2 separate regions of the Homo sapiens genome follow, and region 1 is linked to region 2. Evidence: fine-mapped expression QTL. Tissue or cell type: whole blood. Region 2 holds a variant in brackets; the other region holds the start of a gene. All regions are shown on one strand. Distances are from middle to middle.

Region 1 (8,107 bases), 140 kb after region 2:
GACGTGGGGTCTCGCTATATTGCTCAGGCTGGGCTCAAACTCCTAGGCTCAAGACATCCTCCTGTCCCAGCCTCCCAAAGCGCTGGGATTACAGGCATGAACTACTGTTCCAGACCCTCCAGAACTTTTCTAGTTTAGGATACTGTATTCCTGTCCCATGCAACTACAGCTGTCATAAATAGCATTTAGGACTTCATCATATGCAAAGCCATAATACATGACAGAAAGCTATAATACAAACAGCAGAAACAAGAATTGCTAAGTTTGCTTAGTTGCGCCTATGGGTCATGAGAATCTGTCTCATTTCTGTCTAACGAGTAATCTGCAACAAAATGGAAAACAGAAAAATGTTCTCAGAGTCATCTGCTTGTTTCAAATTCAAGTCTCCATGATTTGGCTGCTCATCAACTTCCAGTAGTAAGGTGTTCTAAGAACCTTTAGTTAAAGTTTTAAAGTCTCACGCTGGAGTACTCCTCAAGCAAAATAATAAAAAAAAATTTAAAAAAAAGTTTTAAACTCATATGTCACTTTTTCATTGTAATGTAAATAAGTTCTTTTAGTCAGATTAACATTCTACATTTTTAATCTTAGGCTTCAAATATTTCAAAGTACCAGAACAAATCTATGAAGCTCTCATAGCTACAACTCACCAATAAAAAACCAGAGGTGATCACTCCACAGAAGTCCCCAAACAAAAAACTTGAATATAACTTCCCAGAAATGTGAATTTGTAGCATCCTATATCATCAGCTCTATAAACCCCGAAGCATATGCCATTCTTACCTTATCCTTTTCATGTGGAAGAAGGGACACTGGAGGTAAACAGGAAAGAGACTCACAACTCTCTTTCCCATCCACGTTGGTTGCTTTAGTGTTGAGCCGATAAAGAGGTCCATCTTTAAGGAGTCTGCCGTGGCCAATGGCACGTTTGATAGCCAATCGTAACTGCTGGTGAAAGCCAGAGGCAGCACTGCCTCCGAATAATGCAGACACATCCTTCTGACCTTTCAAAAAACGTTCAATGCTTTTCAAAGTTGAGCCACCAGACTCTGCCAAGCCCTCAACTGCCCGCTTTATCAGTTTATTCCAATCCACATTTTGTTTATTATCCAATTTTCCATGGTTCCGAGGCTTAGGAAGTGCTATTCGCCCAGGATTATCAGGATCTTTATAGGAATTGAGTCCTTTATTTGAGACTTTTAAAATTGTTCCATCTTTAACACTCAACTCCAATTGTTCTAAAACAGTTTTACGATCCAAGCCATGGGATGAAGACACAGCATTGCATATCCTTTCTTCTGAAGGACGCTGTTTCTGCTTTTTCACTTTTTTGATGGCCTCCAAAATCCACTCAGTATAAAGCGGGTTTGCGAGTTTTACCATGGTGAAGGATTCTGTATATCCATAGAGTCGTTATCCCTTATCCTGATGCTGAGTAAGTTTTACACCATGGAAAACAAGATTCTCGGAGGCTGGGAACCAGTTAACCATAGCATATGAGTTTTCTGGCCTAAGTCCTTCCTCCTTTCACAAAACAGAATGCCACCCCAATTGTACTATAGAAACCAAAACAACCTGTTGATTGAAATGTCTTCCAACTTCCCAATGAATTTCTCAATAGCACCACACATGGGTCTCGTCATAAAGTTGTAAGAACTCAAGAATATTTCATTCCCGGCTCCAGAGCAGAAAAATGTGCATCTTATGCCTGAAAAGCAATGAAAATAAGGTCAGTTTTCTACCAAGACCTATTTCGAATGAAAATAAGCATCCTCATCATAAAGCAATCAAACAGCAAGTGTTTACTAGGCACCCTTAAGAATTTCCAAACTTATCTATTAATATTCCAAAACAATCATGTATGTAAACCATTGGGATAAAAAAGAAAAAAAAAGAAAAGAAAAAAAAAAGATGAGTAATTAGGATACAATGAGGAAACACGATGACATGTTCTAAGAATGACCTTTAAGCTACCACTAACCAGAGTGGGTGATGGCTATTCTGTACTCCGCAATCTCTGCTCACCAGTCTAGGAATTTCAACTCTTCCTTGACATCTTTCCCCAAGAAACTAGTCAGCACTTCAACAAGTATCTGGATTAGTAGAAAGAATCCTGCAATGAAAGTAAAAGTGAATCTTTCATCTTTCAAAATTCTAGACATTCAGAGTAGACAAAAACAGTCAATAAGGCAGAAAACGACTGAGAAAATTTTAGTTCTTACATGAAAAGAATGAATACAATATGCACACCCAGTTTATAATTTAAGTACAGTATTACCTTAATCTCTCCTAATGGAAACAAAAATACTATTGAAAATAGCCTAGAGTAAAAGTGCTTACTGAATTTAACAATAATCCACTTTCATTCAAATTTTAAGAATTACATGCTGATAGCTTCTCCTAACCCAAACTAAGATGTTTCTATTCATATGCTGAAGAGAGTCACAACTGTCAAACTGCGTGTAAGTAATTCAGACAGGAAAACTAGAAATGAGGAAGGCCCAGAATCACTGGGGTCAACGCACATACTACATATCAAACGGACGGTACAGAAAAAGAAATACACTGGCTACTTGTAGGACTAAAGAGAAGCCCAAATAATAAAGATATAAATTCAAGATTGCTGTCCTGAAACGAACATTAATAAAACATAAACAGAAATGTACTGTCTCTCTGAATCAAAGTCAGTATCCCTATAAAAGAATCTGGTAGATGCAATCTTGTTTAATCACTAAAGTACTGAATTCTGAATCTAACTCTTTTGCCTCCAAAAATAAGTTTAACTGAAGTGTTTTTTAGAACTTCTGCTCTCATTCTGGAGATCATTTGCATTACAATATAAACAATGCTAGACAAATGGCTCCCACAGCAACTATTCTTGGTAGTGACATTAAAATCAAACGGAAAACTAATACACACTAGGAAAGAGATATTACTATTAACTCTGATAGGAAAGAAAAGAGTGAAGCAAACATTCAAACCTGAGCCAAGATTTGTTTTTAAATCAGCTGCCTAAAAAGAAGCCCCCTGGGAGAATCATGCTTCAATTTGGTGAGGGTCTCAAGAGGATAGAAATCAGAGTATCATTACTCCAAGTAAGCTCATTATACAGATATTAAGTCTAAACTAAATGAGAAGCTACATCCTGAGTTTAACAAGCTGGGAACGAACGTCCTAATTGACTAAGCTTCGCAGGTAAAAGAATGAGTGACAGTCACTCATTGTCTTTCCAGTCGGGATTGTCATCAGTCTCCAGGTCTTCGGAAAGTCAAGCGCCTGCAGCCTCGGATCTTAACTCCCGGAAAGTACACGAGCGGCTAGAGCGAGCGCAACTCGCTTCCGACAGTCCTTCCCGTCCCCATTCCCCACCCCTAAACACGTCTTCGCGCTCTCTTTTCAAAGAGCGAGAAACTTTAAAAACTTGGATCTGCACAGCCCGGCAGCTCGCCGACGGGGCGCTGCACCGTTTCCACGCGATGGAAACAGACCCCGAGCACAAGTTAACAATGAAATCACGTGAAGGAGTTCAGAGCGGTGCATAGCCCCGGCCCAGCTCCGCACCCTAAGCTCTGGGGGCCGGCTCGAGGGCGGCGCGGGTTGCTGGGAGCCTGACAGTCGCGCACCGGGCCAAGCCGCGAGGTTGACAGGCGCCCGGCCTCCCCTCGGCGGCTGGGCTGACAGCCCGGCAGACACAACACCACACGTGCTGCGCCTCGCACCACAACACCCGCCGGCCTGTCAGCCCCGCTCGCCGCCTCAGCCCCGCTCGGATCCCCGCGCCCCCGGCCGGAGCCAAAGCCGGAGCCGGAACCCGAGCCCGAGCCCGAACCCGAGCGCCCGCGAGCGCGGGGAGAAGCGGCCCGGCCCGGCACAGCCGGCACGCGCGCGGCGGGCGGGTGGGCGCGCCCCGAGGGAGAGCGGGCTCGCCGGCTCCGCCAGCCCGAGGCTCCGCGGCCTGGGCCGCTCGCCGCCCGCCCACCCGCCGGCTCCCCCAGGGCGGGCCCGGCCGGCGGGATCGGGGGCGCGGGGCCCGCGAGCGCGGGGCCGGGCGGCGGCGCGCGGGCCGCGGGCCGGGGCAGCCGGGCGCCGAACAAGCGAGCAAGCGAGCGAGCGAGCGGGCGGGCGCGAGGGGGCGGCCACGGCGCCCCAGCCCGAGGCCTGGCGCAGAGCAGCGGGAGGCGGCGCAGGCCGCGGCGGGGCCTGCAGCGGCCCGCCGACCCCGCGAGGCAGCGGAGTGGGCCCTGGAGCGGCTCGGCCTCGGGCTGGGCGGCCGGGGGCGGCCGGGAACGGCCCCTCGGCTACTTACCGGGAGGAAGGACAGCCGAGATCCCGGGGCCCCGGGCCGGACCGCGGAGATGCCCCAAACTGACACGGCCGCCATCTTGGAGACAGTGAGCTCCAGCCGGGGGGAGGGGAGGCAAGGCGGCGGAACAGCCGCGGGGGGAGGGGAGCGTCGCGAGGGAACGGCGGCCTGGGGGAGGGAGCTGGAAGAGCCTGGGCGGGCGGCGAGGGGAGGCGGAGGCCCGGCAGCGCGGGTGGGGGGCGGCCGAGAGCGGGAAGAGCTGGGCCGAGAGCCGGGAAAGGCCGGAGGGCGGGGCGGGGCAGCAGGGAAGAGCCGGCCGGCGGGGTCACGTGGGGCCGGTACAAAAGGCCAAAGCCAGGGGAGGAGGAGGACTTGGTGGGGCTGGAGGCTGGGGAGCGGGGGTTCCTCCTCTCCCGTCTCACGCGTTTAAGTCAGACGGCGACCCGGGAGAGGAGGAGCTGGTGCACCCCATGCCACCGCTGGGGAAACTGAGGGCAGGAGTCTGGGTGGGGTGGCTTCAGTGTGGCACGGAAATCCGGCAGCCACGCAGGATGGGAACTCTCGGCGGCGTCTGTTTACAGTTAGTGAGCCCTCCCTCCCCACTCATTTGCCTGCACAGCGACTTTCCGGAGCCCGAGGGCGGGGCCTGGGGGGCGGAGAGGAGGCGGCTTCCCGTCCTCACCCCTGGCAGCTCGCCTCAGCCCCCGACGGCTCTCCTGTGTCGGTGGGAAGAGTTGGGGAGAGGGTGGAACCAGAAGCACCCGTCTTAACCCCTTTCAGCAGTGACTTCATTTCTTCCCTCCCCCAGCAGCTGAGAGGGTTCTTGGAGCTCACTAGAGCCATTTTATGGGAGACTCCACAGACCTGGGTCGTGTGACTTGGACAAGGTCACACAGCTAGTATGTGGCGCGCACCTGAGCCTGGGACTGAGATTTGTCTTATTCCAAAGCCGGTCTTCCCTTCTTGCCCTGTGCGGAACTCTTGTCCATACTTAGGGCGTTGGAACCACGAGCAGGCGGTTCTTCATGGCCTGCCTGTCCACTACTGGCTGTATGGACGTTTCTTTGTCTTGCCTTTCATCTACTTTAAACTCTTTGATGCAGAGACTGAGTCATACTTTTTTTTTTTTTTTTGAGACAGTGTCGCTCTGTTGCCCAGGCTGGAGTGCAAGTGGTGCGATCTTGGCTCACTGCAACCTCCGTCTCCTGGGTTCAAGCGATTCTCCTACCTCATCCTCCTGAGTAGCTGGGACTGCAGGCGCCCGCCACCACGCCTGGCTTATTTTTGTATTTTTAGTAGAGACGGGGTGTCACTATGTTGGCCAGGCCGCTGGTCTCGAACTCCTGACTTCAAGTGATCCGCCCTCTTCGGCCTCCCAAAGTGCTGGGATTACAGGCCTGAGACACTGCACCTGGCCAAGTCATGCATTTTTTTTTTTTCTGCATTCACTAGAAAGACAGTAGACATGAAAAAGACACTAAATGTTTAATCGTTGACATGGACGTGTATCCTGCTGCCTGACCTTTATCTGCCCTGTCCCCAACCCCATACGACACACCCCGCCTAGACTGTCGCCCGCAATACCTCATTTTATCTCAGCTTTAGCTTTTAAGGGCCTCCCTCTCACCCACTGCCTTAACTTCCATGCTGACTTCCTTTTCTGAACTTCTGTAGTAGTATCATTTGCTCTAGTCATTTTGCACTTACATGTGATATATATATATATATATATATATTCCGAATACATTCACTGGTAAATGCTCTCCTATAATGACTCTGCATCTCCAGCACCTAGAATAATGTTGTACAAGTACTGTAGTAGGCGGTTTAAAATAAAAAAATGTTGCTCGTGAATGAACAATTTTTTAAGCCGTTAAGAAAGCCGTTTGTGGCGGGGCGCTGCTGTAGCCCAGCTACTCGGGAGGCCTGCTTGAGCCCGGGAGTTCCAGGCTGCAGTGAACTATGATCGCCACTACACTCCAGCCTGAGAGACACAGCAAGAGGGAACCCAAACTTTTCTATCTATCCCGTCTCCACTCTAATCCATAGCCCTACCCTCCATACGGTAGACTCTGGACCATTCAGTAAGAATAACGTAACTTTTCAGATCATGGTCCAGCCTAATCAATATCCTGACACTGACAGAAACAGAAGTGTAATGTAGTGAGGTTGACTGAGTTGCCATTCATCGCCTACTTCCAAGCCCCATCTCCAAAGCAGTAGAGAAATTTGGAATACATGATAATCCAATAGAAAGGATCTCTTTCATCCTAGATGAATCAGATAGACACATTCTCAGGTAAAATGGTCCCTGTTTGTAATGAAATCACCTCCAGGAAAAAAAAAAAAAAAAAAAAAAAAAAAAATATATATATATATATATATATGTATTTTCTTTTAGTAGAATAGGCAGATTTTTATTTCCCAAAGAGGGCAGATAAAGTCATATTAATGCAAAGACAATGAGTTCTTCATGTGAGACTAGAGTGTGTGGCCTTCAGAAGAAAAATAATACAGAGATGAGTTGTGTTTACTTTTGGATAATTTGGAAGAAAACTAGCCACAGCCATCCTGTGAAAAGACCAAACTGGGGATTAAACAGTAGCAAGAATTTAAAACAATTTATAACAACAAAGCACAGTTGAGCTTTTCACACAGCTTCCATAAAGAGTCTCTGCTTTACATTTGCATAACTAAATGGCACATTCAGGAGGTCTTCTCAAAATAAAAATCTTGCAACAAAGACGGATTAAAGTCCTCATCATTTGCAAGTTAAAAAGCAATCTGCACTCTGAAAGGATAGTTTTTCTTAGCTCAAACTTTACTCACGATTCAGCCCTGTGGAGCTGGCAACTAAAGGTTATTTCCCCCTTGCATATTTTGCTCTAGGAATCCCTGCCTTTTCACTTGTACTTGGTACTTGTGTCTTATACAGAGTCCATGCCAGCCTGAAATTGGAAGTTTGCTCTGTCCTGGTTTCAACAGGAAACATTTTTAGTCCATTTACATTTAATATAATTACTGGTATATGTGGATGTATGCCTACCATCTTACCATTTATTTTGGATCACCTATTTCACATTCCTTGTTCTCTGCTTTTTGCCTTCTTTTGAATTAATTAAAATATTTTAACTATATCATTAACCCCCTCTATTAATTTTTAAATTATACATTACTAGTTTTAGAGATTACAACATTGCTTTTTGACTTATGATCTTATACAAAATAATTACTTTTACCACTTCCCCGGGAATGCTAAGACATTAAAATACTGTATCTCCACCTACCCATCTCCCTTTTGTGTTTATTGTCGTCAAGGATTTTAATTGTGTGTGTATTTTAAGCCACACAAGAATTTATACTTATTGTTCTGTACAATAAGTACTCATTTAGATTAACCTCCATATTTATCCTTATATTGCTCTTCATTCCAATATGCATTTCTGTGCTTCTGTCTGAAGGTTTTCCTTCTATTTGAATAATTCCCCTGTTTTACAGCAGGTCTGCTGATGACAAGTTCTCTCCAAGGTTGTTTGAGTTTTTGCTTTTTGTTTTTTGTGGGGTTTTATTGCCTAAAACTTTGCATTATCCTTCATATTTTTGCTGGGTATAGCATTCTGATTTGGCAAGTTTTTTTTGTTTTTTGGTTTTTTTTTCCCAGCACTTTGAAGATGTTCTTCCATTGTCTTCTGGTTTCTGTCACTCCCTTTTATTCCTTTGAAAGTAATGTCTTTTTTCCTTTGACTCCTTTTAGGATTTTTTCTTGTCTTTGGTTGTCAACAGCTTTACTATGACGTGTGTAGA
Region 2 (8,107 bases):
GAGACGGAGTTTCGCTCTTGTCACCCAGATCAGAGTACAATGGCGCGACCTCAGCTCACTGCAACCTCTGCCTCCTGGGTTCAAGCGATTCTCCTACCTCAGCCTGCCAGGTAGCTGGGATTACAGGTGCCTGCCACCATGCCCAGCTAATTTTTGTACTTTTAGTAGAGACGGGGTTTCACCATGTTAGCCAGGTTGGTCTTGAACGCCTGACTTCAGGCGATCCACCCACCTTGGCCTCCCAAAGTGCTGGGATTACAGGCATGAGCCACCGCACCCAGCCCAACAACAGAATGTTAAGGCTCTTCTTTGGCTGCTCTGTGTGCTCTGACATCTCTCTCCTGGAGAGTCTTGGTTACCTCCTGGCAGAACCACCGAGGAGGACTCCTGCCAGTGAGAGCCTAGTTTCCTTTCCACTGCTCCTTATTTATCCTTCCTGCAGGCGCTGTGAGCTCTCAAGCTCCCCTGATCCCTCACTTGACCCTGCTCTCAGGGGGCCCAACCCACCTTCCTGCTAGCCACGAACCCTTTAGACCCCCAGCCCCACGATGAGGGCTGTCTCTTAGAAATGATTATGAATAAACTGGTTCCTGGCACTCCTTTGTTGGCTCTCCTTCTTCACTTAAAAAAAATATATATAGCAACCTATATATAACACAAATATTTACCGTTTTCACTATTTTTAGATGCACAGTTCAGGGGCATTAACTACATTCACATTGTTGTGCAACTATCAAAACCATCCACCTCCAGAACCTTCTCCTCTTGCCAAACTGCAGCTCTGTTCCTGTTAATGGTAACTCCCAGCCTGGCGCGGTGGCTCATGCCTGTAATCCCAGCACTTTGGGAGGCCGAGGTGGGAGGATCATGAGGTCAGGAGTTTGAGACCAGCCTGGCCAACATAGTGAAACCCCGTCTCTACTAAAAATACAAAAATTAGCCCAGCGTGGTGGCATGTACCTGTAGTCCCAGCTACTCAGAAGGCTGAGACAGGAGAATCGCTTGAACCCGGGAGGTGGAGGTTGTGGTGAGCCGAGATCGCGCCACTGCACTCCAAACAAAAAAAAAAAATAGTAACTCCCCATTCCGCCCTCCCTGCAGCCCCTGGTAACCACTCTCCAGGGGTGCCTAAGTTGGTGCAAAAGTAATTGAGGTTTAGGACCATGAATTTTAAATCATTATAACTAGGCTCAAACACATTATTAATCAAAATAGGAACCATTACAATCAACACATTTTTGCCAATGAGAAATAAGTTTGTTTACTCCTGTAGCGTAAAAATCCATGCTTTGGGATTCGACAAACTCTTGGAAAGCATTTTCTGCCTCCTGCTGGTTGTGGAAGCATTTTCCCTGCAAAAAGTTGTTGAGATGCTTGAAGTAGTGGTAGTTGGTTGGCGAGAGGTCAGGTGAATGTGGTAGATGAGGCAAAACTTCGCAGCCCAATTCGTTTACTTCGGAAGCATTGGTTGTGTGATGTGCAGTCGGTTGGGCATTGTCAGAGAAGAATCGAGCCCTTTCTGTGGACCACTGCTGGCTGCAGGCGTTGCAATTTTCGGTGCATCTCATAGATTTGCCAAGCATACTTCTCAGGTGTAATGGTTTTGCCGGGATTCAGAAAGCTGCAGTGGATCAGACCAGCAGCTGACCGCCAAACAGTGGCCAGGACCCTTTTTTGGTGCAAGTTTGGCTTTGGGAAGTGCTTTGGAGCTTCTTCTTTGTCCAACCACTTAGCTGGTCATCACCAGTTGTATAAAATCCACTTTTCATGGCATGTCACAATTCAATCTCGAAATGGTTCCTTGTTGTTGAGTAGAATATGAGAAGACGACACTTCAAAATGACAAATTTGTTTTTTTTTTAATTTTGCTCAGCTCATGAGGCACCCACTTACCGAGCTTTTTTACCTTTCCAATTTGCTTCAAATGCCAAAGGACCATAGAATCGTCGATGTTGAGTTCTTTGGCAACCTCTCCTGTGGTTGTAAGAGGATCAGCTTAGATGATGGCTCTCAGTTGGTCGTTGTCATCTTTCGATGGCCGGCCACTACACTCCTCATCTTCAGGGCTCTCGTCTCCTTTGTAAAACTTCCTGAACCACCATTGCACTGTACGTTTGTTAGCAGTTCCTGGGACAAATGCATTGTTGATGTTGAGAGTTGTCTCTGCTGCTTTATGACCCATTTTGAACTTGAATAAGAAAATCACTCAAATTTGCTTTTTGTCTAACATCATTTCCATAGTCTAAAATAAATATAGAATAAACAGCAGTAATGTCATTAGCAAAAAAAAGTAAGAAACGCACATTAAAATGATGTGTAACATAACCACATTGATTTAAGAATGTATTCCAATGTCAAATGGCAAATTTCAACAATGTAAAAACCACAATTACTTTTGCGCCAAACTTTCTGTCTCTTGAATTTGCCTATTCCAGGTACCTCTTATAAGTGGAATCGTGCAACATTTGTCTTTTTGTGACTGGCTTCTTTCACTTAGCATAATGTCTCCAAGGTGCATCTCTGTTGCAGCATGTGTCAGAATACCCTTCCTTTTTAAGGCTGAATAATATTCCATTGTGTGGATTGACCATATTCTGTGGTCTGTTCCTCTGTCTGTGGATACTTGTGTTGATTTCGCCTTTGGCCATTGTGAAGTAGCCTGCTAGGAACATGGGTGGACAAATGTCTGTGTGAGCCCCTGCTTTCATTCCTTTTGGATATATGCCCAGAAGTGGAATTGTTGGATCATATGGTAATTCTGTTTAATTTTTTGAGAAACTGCCCCACTGCTTTCCACAGCAGTCATTCAATTTTGCATTCCTACCAACAGAGCACAAGGGCTCCAGTTACACTACATCCTCGCCAATACTTACTGTTTTCTGTTTTTTGATAATAGTAAGCCTAATGGGTATGAGGTCATACCTCAATGTGCTTTTGGTTCATATTTCCCTAAAGATTAGCGATATTGAGCATTTTTTTCATGTCTTTATTGGTTTTTTGTATATCCTATTTGGGGAAATATCTATTCAAGTCCTTCATCCAATTTCTCTCTCTCTTCCCTTTTTTTTTTTTTTTTTTTTTTTGAGATAGGGTCTAGCTCTGTCACCCAGGCTGGAGTGCAGTGGCATGACTGAGGCTCACTGCAACCTCTGCCTCCCAGGTTCAAGCAATCCTCCCCCCTCAGCCCCCCAAGTAGCGGGGACTATAGGCACACGCCACCACCGCTGGATAATTTTTGTATTTTTTGTAGAGACAGGGTTTCACCATGTTGCCCGGACTGGTCTCAAACTCCTGGGCTCGAGTGATCCACCCACCTCAGCCTCCCAAAGTGCTGGGATTATAGGCATGAACCACCACGCCTGGCCACACCCGATTTCTAATTGAGTTGTTTGGTTTTTTGTCATTGAGTTGTAAGATTCTTTGTATATTCTAGATATTAATCATTTCTCCAAAATGAAACTTGCAAATGTTTTCTTCCATTGTGTGAGTCTCCTTCTCTCTCTGTTGATAGTGTCCTTTGATGCACAAAACGTTTTTAATCTTGATGAAGTTCAATTTGTCTATTTTCTCTTTTGTTGTGTGAGCTTTTGGTGTCATGTCTGGGAAATCACTGCCAAATTCAGTGTCATGAAACTTTTCCCCAATAAGGGCTTTGTAGAGTTCGCTTTCACATTTTGTTTTGTGATCCATTTTGAGTTTCGCGTGTGCGTGTGTGTGTGTGTGTGTGTGGTGTGAAACAAGATGTGGCTTCATTCTGCATGTGGATATCCAGTTTTCTCAGCATTATTTGTTGAAAAGACTGTCCTTTCCCTGCTGAATGACCTTGGCATCCTTGTTGAGAATCAGTTGCCCGTCTTCACATGAGGGTTTATTTCTGATCTCTTTCTTCTGTTCCATCAGTCTATATGTCTGTCTTTATGCTGGGACCACACTCTCTTGTTAGTGTAGGCTTGTAGGAGATTTTCCTTCCCTTCCATCTTGTCCCCTTTCCCTGACTTGGAGATATCCAGGTCTCTCCTGCTGTCCATGCCCCTCAGCCTCCACCCTCCCCCCATAATCCTATTTATCACCCAGAGCCCCAAGGTAAGACCTTTCTCCCTTATCTGCACCCATTAAAATGCATCTACTTTGCCTATTTCCCTCAAGTTCACATGACTGATCCAGTGCCGAGTTTATGCTAAGGTGTTGGTGGTAGCCCATGGCTTCATGCACTCACCCTTTTATGTGCCTCTCCCGGGTCACTCAGCCCAAACAGGCCTAGTCTGCTGGCCACCGCCAGGCTTTCTTCCAGGTATCGGTCTCAGACTCCTGCCCCACCTCACTCCACTCCACCCTCACCACTGCTTCAAAGGCCGTCTCAGATCTTGACCCCATCTTCCCCCCAAACCTGCAATTCCCCTTCAGTTGCCATCTCTGCCACACCCACCCACCCGAATGCAAACTCTTTAATTTGGTATTGCGCTGGTATTATACTCAAAATATAACCAGAGCCCTGACCTTCCTTTCACCTCCGTCATGGCTTCCCCGTCCCAGCCACCATCAAGTCTCACCCAGGTCACCGCAGTAGCCTCTTTGCTGCTCCCGCGTTTCCACCCTGGCCCTCCACACCACAGCACGAGTGACCCTCTTCAGATGTAGGACAGACGATAACACTCCTCCACTCAAAATCCCCCAACACATCCCCTCCCCCTGCCAAGGCGTTTCCAATGACTTA[G/C]TGACTGCCACTGTGAAACTGCATAGGAGCCACCTGACACTCAGCAGCTGGCACAGGTGTTTAGTGGGCCATCCAGGGGCCTGCAGACAGATGGTGTGACCACCAGGCAGGGCTCAGGAGGTGCCTCATCTACATGGGATCTGTCCCTTTGTAACTGGCCCTTTCATTCCTTGTGCCCTCAAGGTGCATCCACGGTGCAGGGTGTGCAGCATCCCCCTCCTCTTAAAGGGTGAGTCATATCCCGTGGTGTGAATAGACCACATCTGTTCATCCATTCATCTGTTCATGAACACTTGGGTTGTTTCCATCTTTGGGGTATTATGAATAATGCTATTGGGGTGTATGAATATCACTTGTTTTTTAAAAAATTAAATTTGATTAGGTATAATTTATATGCAGTAAAATGTATCCATTTTCATGTGCAGTTTGCTAGGTGTCAACTAGATACAGAATGTTTCCATTGCCCCGGAAATTTCCTGTGCCCTTTGCAGTTAATCTCTCCCCCAATCCCCAGCAACCCCTTCTGCTCTCCGTCACCGTAGGTCAGTTTTGCGTTGTTTTTTGTTTTTTGTTTTTTTTTAGACAGAGTCTCACTTTGTCCCCCAGGCTGGAGTGCAGTGGCAATGATCTTAGCTCACTGCAACCTCCACCTCCCGTGTTCAAGTGATTCTTGTGCCTCAGCCTCCCAAGTTGCTGGGAGTACAGGCACGCCCAGCAGTTTTGCCTTTTCTAAAGCTTTATATAAGTGGAATGATATAGAAAGCACTCTTTCAAATCTGGCTTCTTTTGTTCAGCAAAGGGTTTTGGGATTCACTCATATTGTTGTGTATGTCCTTTATTGGACAGTTACTGTTCCATTGTATGGCTATACCATGTGTGTCCACTCAACAGCTAATGGACATCTGGGTTCTTTCCAGTGTTGGTCATTTGTGACTCAAGCTGCTACAGACATTTGTGCAGAAGTCTTTGGGGGAACATATGCTTCTGTTTCTCTTGGGTAAATACCCAGGAGTGGACCTGCTGGGATGGATGTGGGAAGTGTATGTTTAACTTTTTAAGAAATGGCCAGAGCACTGCTTTTCAATGTGGTTTACTCTCTTACACTGCCATCAGCGATACATGAGAGTACACATTTCTCCATGTCCTGATCAACACTTAATATGGCCACTTTTTAGTCTTTTCCATTCTAATTGTGGGAAACAGTATCTCACTGCAGTTGTAATTTGTATTTCCTTACTAATGATACTAAACATCTTTTCACGTATTAGTGGTCATCCGTATATCTTCTTTGGTAAAGTGTCTGTTCAAATCTCCTAACCATTTTTAAAAATTAGATTGTTTATACTATCAAGTTGAAAGAGTTCCTTACGTATCTGGACACCAGTCCTTTGTCAGATATACATATTGTAAATATGTATATCTCCCACCCTGTGGCCAAACTTTTCATTTTTTAGTGGTGTCTTTCAAAGAGCAGTTTTTTTTTTAATGGAATTCAATTTATCATTTTTTTTCTTTAATGGATTGTGTTTTTCGGTGTCCTAGGTATTCTTTTTTTGGCTTCTTTTGCACATTATACTTCAGATTCATTCATTGCATGTAACTGTAGTTCTTTAAATTTCATTGGCGTGTAGAATTCGGCATGTACATACTGCAAATAACCATTCTATTGTGACGGTATGTGGACTGTTTTGGGCCGCTGCAAATTATGTATGCTGTTATGAACATTCTTGTACATGTACCCTGAGACACATGGACTTGTATTTCTCTAAGTTTGTAACTTACTGTGGAATTGCTGAGGGACGGAACATGCATAACTTCAACTGTACCAGATAACGCCAAGAAGCTTTCAAAAGTAGTTAAACTAATTTATACTCCCATAGTAGTTTATAAGTTGCTTCATGTTCTTATTAATACTTTATATTTCTTTTCTTTTCCTTTTTCTTTTTTTTTTTTTTTTTTTGAGATGGAGTTTCTCTCTGTTGCTTAGGCTGGAATGCAGTAGTGCCATCTCAGCTCACTGCAACGTCCACCTCCCGGGTTCAGGTGATTCTCCCACCTCAGCCTCCCAAGTAGCTGGGATTACAGGCGTGCGCCACCACGCCTGGCTAATTTTTGTATTTTTAATAGAGATGAGGTTTCACCATGTTGGTCAGGCTTGTCTCAAACTCCTGACCTCAAGTGATCCACCTGCCTCCACCTCCCAAAGTTCTGGGATTGTAGGTGTGAGCCGCCACGCCCAGCCAATACTTTATATTTTCAATCCTTTCAATGTTAATCTAGTGGGTGCATAGTGGCCATTCATCTTTGGCTCTTTTTTTCTTTTTTTTGACTATATACATTTTTCATTAAGGCCATAAATTTCCCTCTAAATACTTCTTTAGCCTTTCAATATCTTCAAAAGTAGAGAGAATAGTATCATGAAACCCCATGTACTCACTAGCCAATTTCAACATTTATCAGCTCATTGTTAATATTATTTCCTTTAGACCAATGCTGGATTATTTTGAAGCAAATTCCAGACACAATATCCTTGCATCAATACTTATTTCAGCTTTTTTTTGTTTGTCTGTTTTGAGATGGAGTCTCGCTGTGTCACCCAGGCTGGAGTGCAGTGGTGTGATCTCGGCTGACTGCAACCTCCACCTCCCAGGTTCAAGCAATTCTGCTGCCTCAGCCTCCCAAGTAGCTGGGGCTACAGGCATGTGCCACCACACCCGCTAATTTTTTGTATTTTTAGTAGAGACAGGGTTTCACTGTGTTAGCCAGAATGGTCTCAATCTCCTGACCTCGTGGCCCACCCGCCTCGGCCTCCCAAAGTGCTGGGATTACAGGCATGAGCCAGCGCGCCCAGCCTTATTTCAGGATTTAACTGTAAATAAAATGACCTTTCAAAAAATAAAGACAATATCACTATTTCACACCTTAAAGTTGAAAATCCTCAACATCATCAAATCTTCAGTGTTCAAACTGCTACCTCATAAAAGTTGTAATTTCTCAGAATCAGGATGCATTTCATTCACATATTTCTTAAATCTCTTAATCTTCACCCTCCATGCCCTCCTCTCCTATTATTCCTTGTAATTGATCTGTCATTTATCCTGTGAAGTTTCTCATGGTCTAGATGTGGTTGCTTCCATCCCTGTGGTGGTGTTTACCATGTGCCTCTGTCCCTTGTGTTTTCTGTAAACTGATAAATTGAAGCACATTTAGAACCAGCATGGTTTTCTGACAAGGGTATTTTCATAGGTGGTATGAAAAGGCACACAATATCCCAGGTGTTTCTTTTTGAGATGCTAGTGGCATTTGATAATCTTTGCCTAGATCCATTATTTCATACGGGTTGCAAATAATTCAGCTCAAAATATTTTCTAATTTCTTTTTTTTTTTTTTTTT

Evidence for each region. PIP is the estimated chance that this variant, and not a neighbour inherited with it, causes the effect.
Region 1: KAT6A starts here. The variant in region 2 is fine-mapped to the expression of KAT6A in whole blood (INTERVAL, PIP 0.98).

The regions. Positions count from the first base shown.
Region 1 is chr8:42,047,595-42,055,701 of GRCh38, forward strand. It overlaps KAT6A (lysine acetyltransferase 6A), which reads right to left and starts at 4,393. Exons shown (of 17, transcript NM_006766.5): 1 at 4,307-4,393; 2 at 784-1,708. The coding sequence starts at 1,383. KAT6A-AS1 (KAT6A antisense RNA 1) reads left to right here and starts at 4,156. Exons shown (of 2, transcript NR_136589.1): 1 at 4,156-4,391. RefSeq lists silencers at 3,487-3,956, 4,057-4,686, 4,877-5,036, 6,997-7,291 and enhancers at 4,485-5,006, 5,007-5,527.
Region 2 is chr8:41,911,366-41,919,472 of GRCh38, forward strand. No RefSeq gene overlaps it. Among named protein-coding and RNA genes, the nearest start is that of ANK1, 120 kb to the left of the region's middle. The variant G/C (reference allele first, on the strand shown) is at 4,715.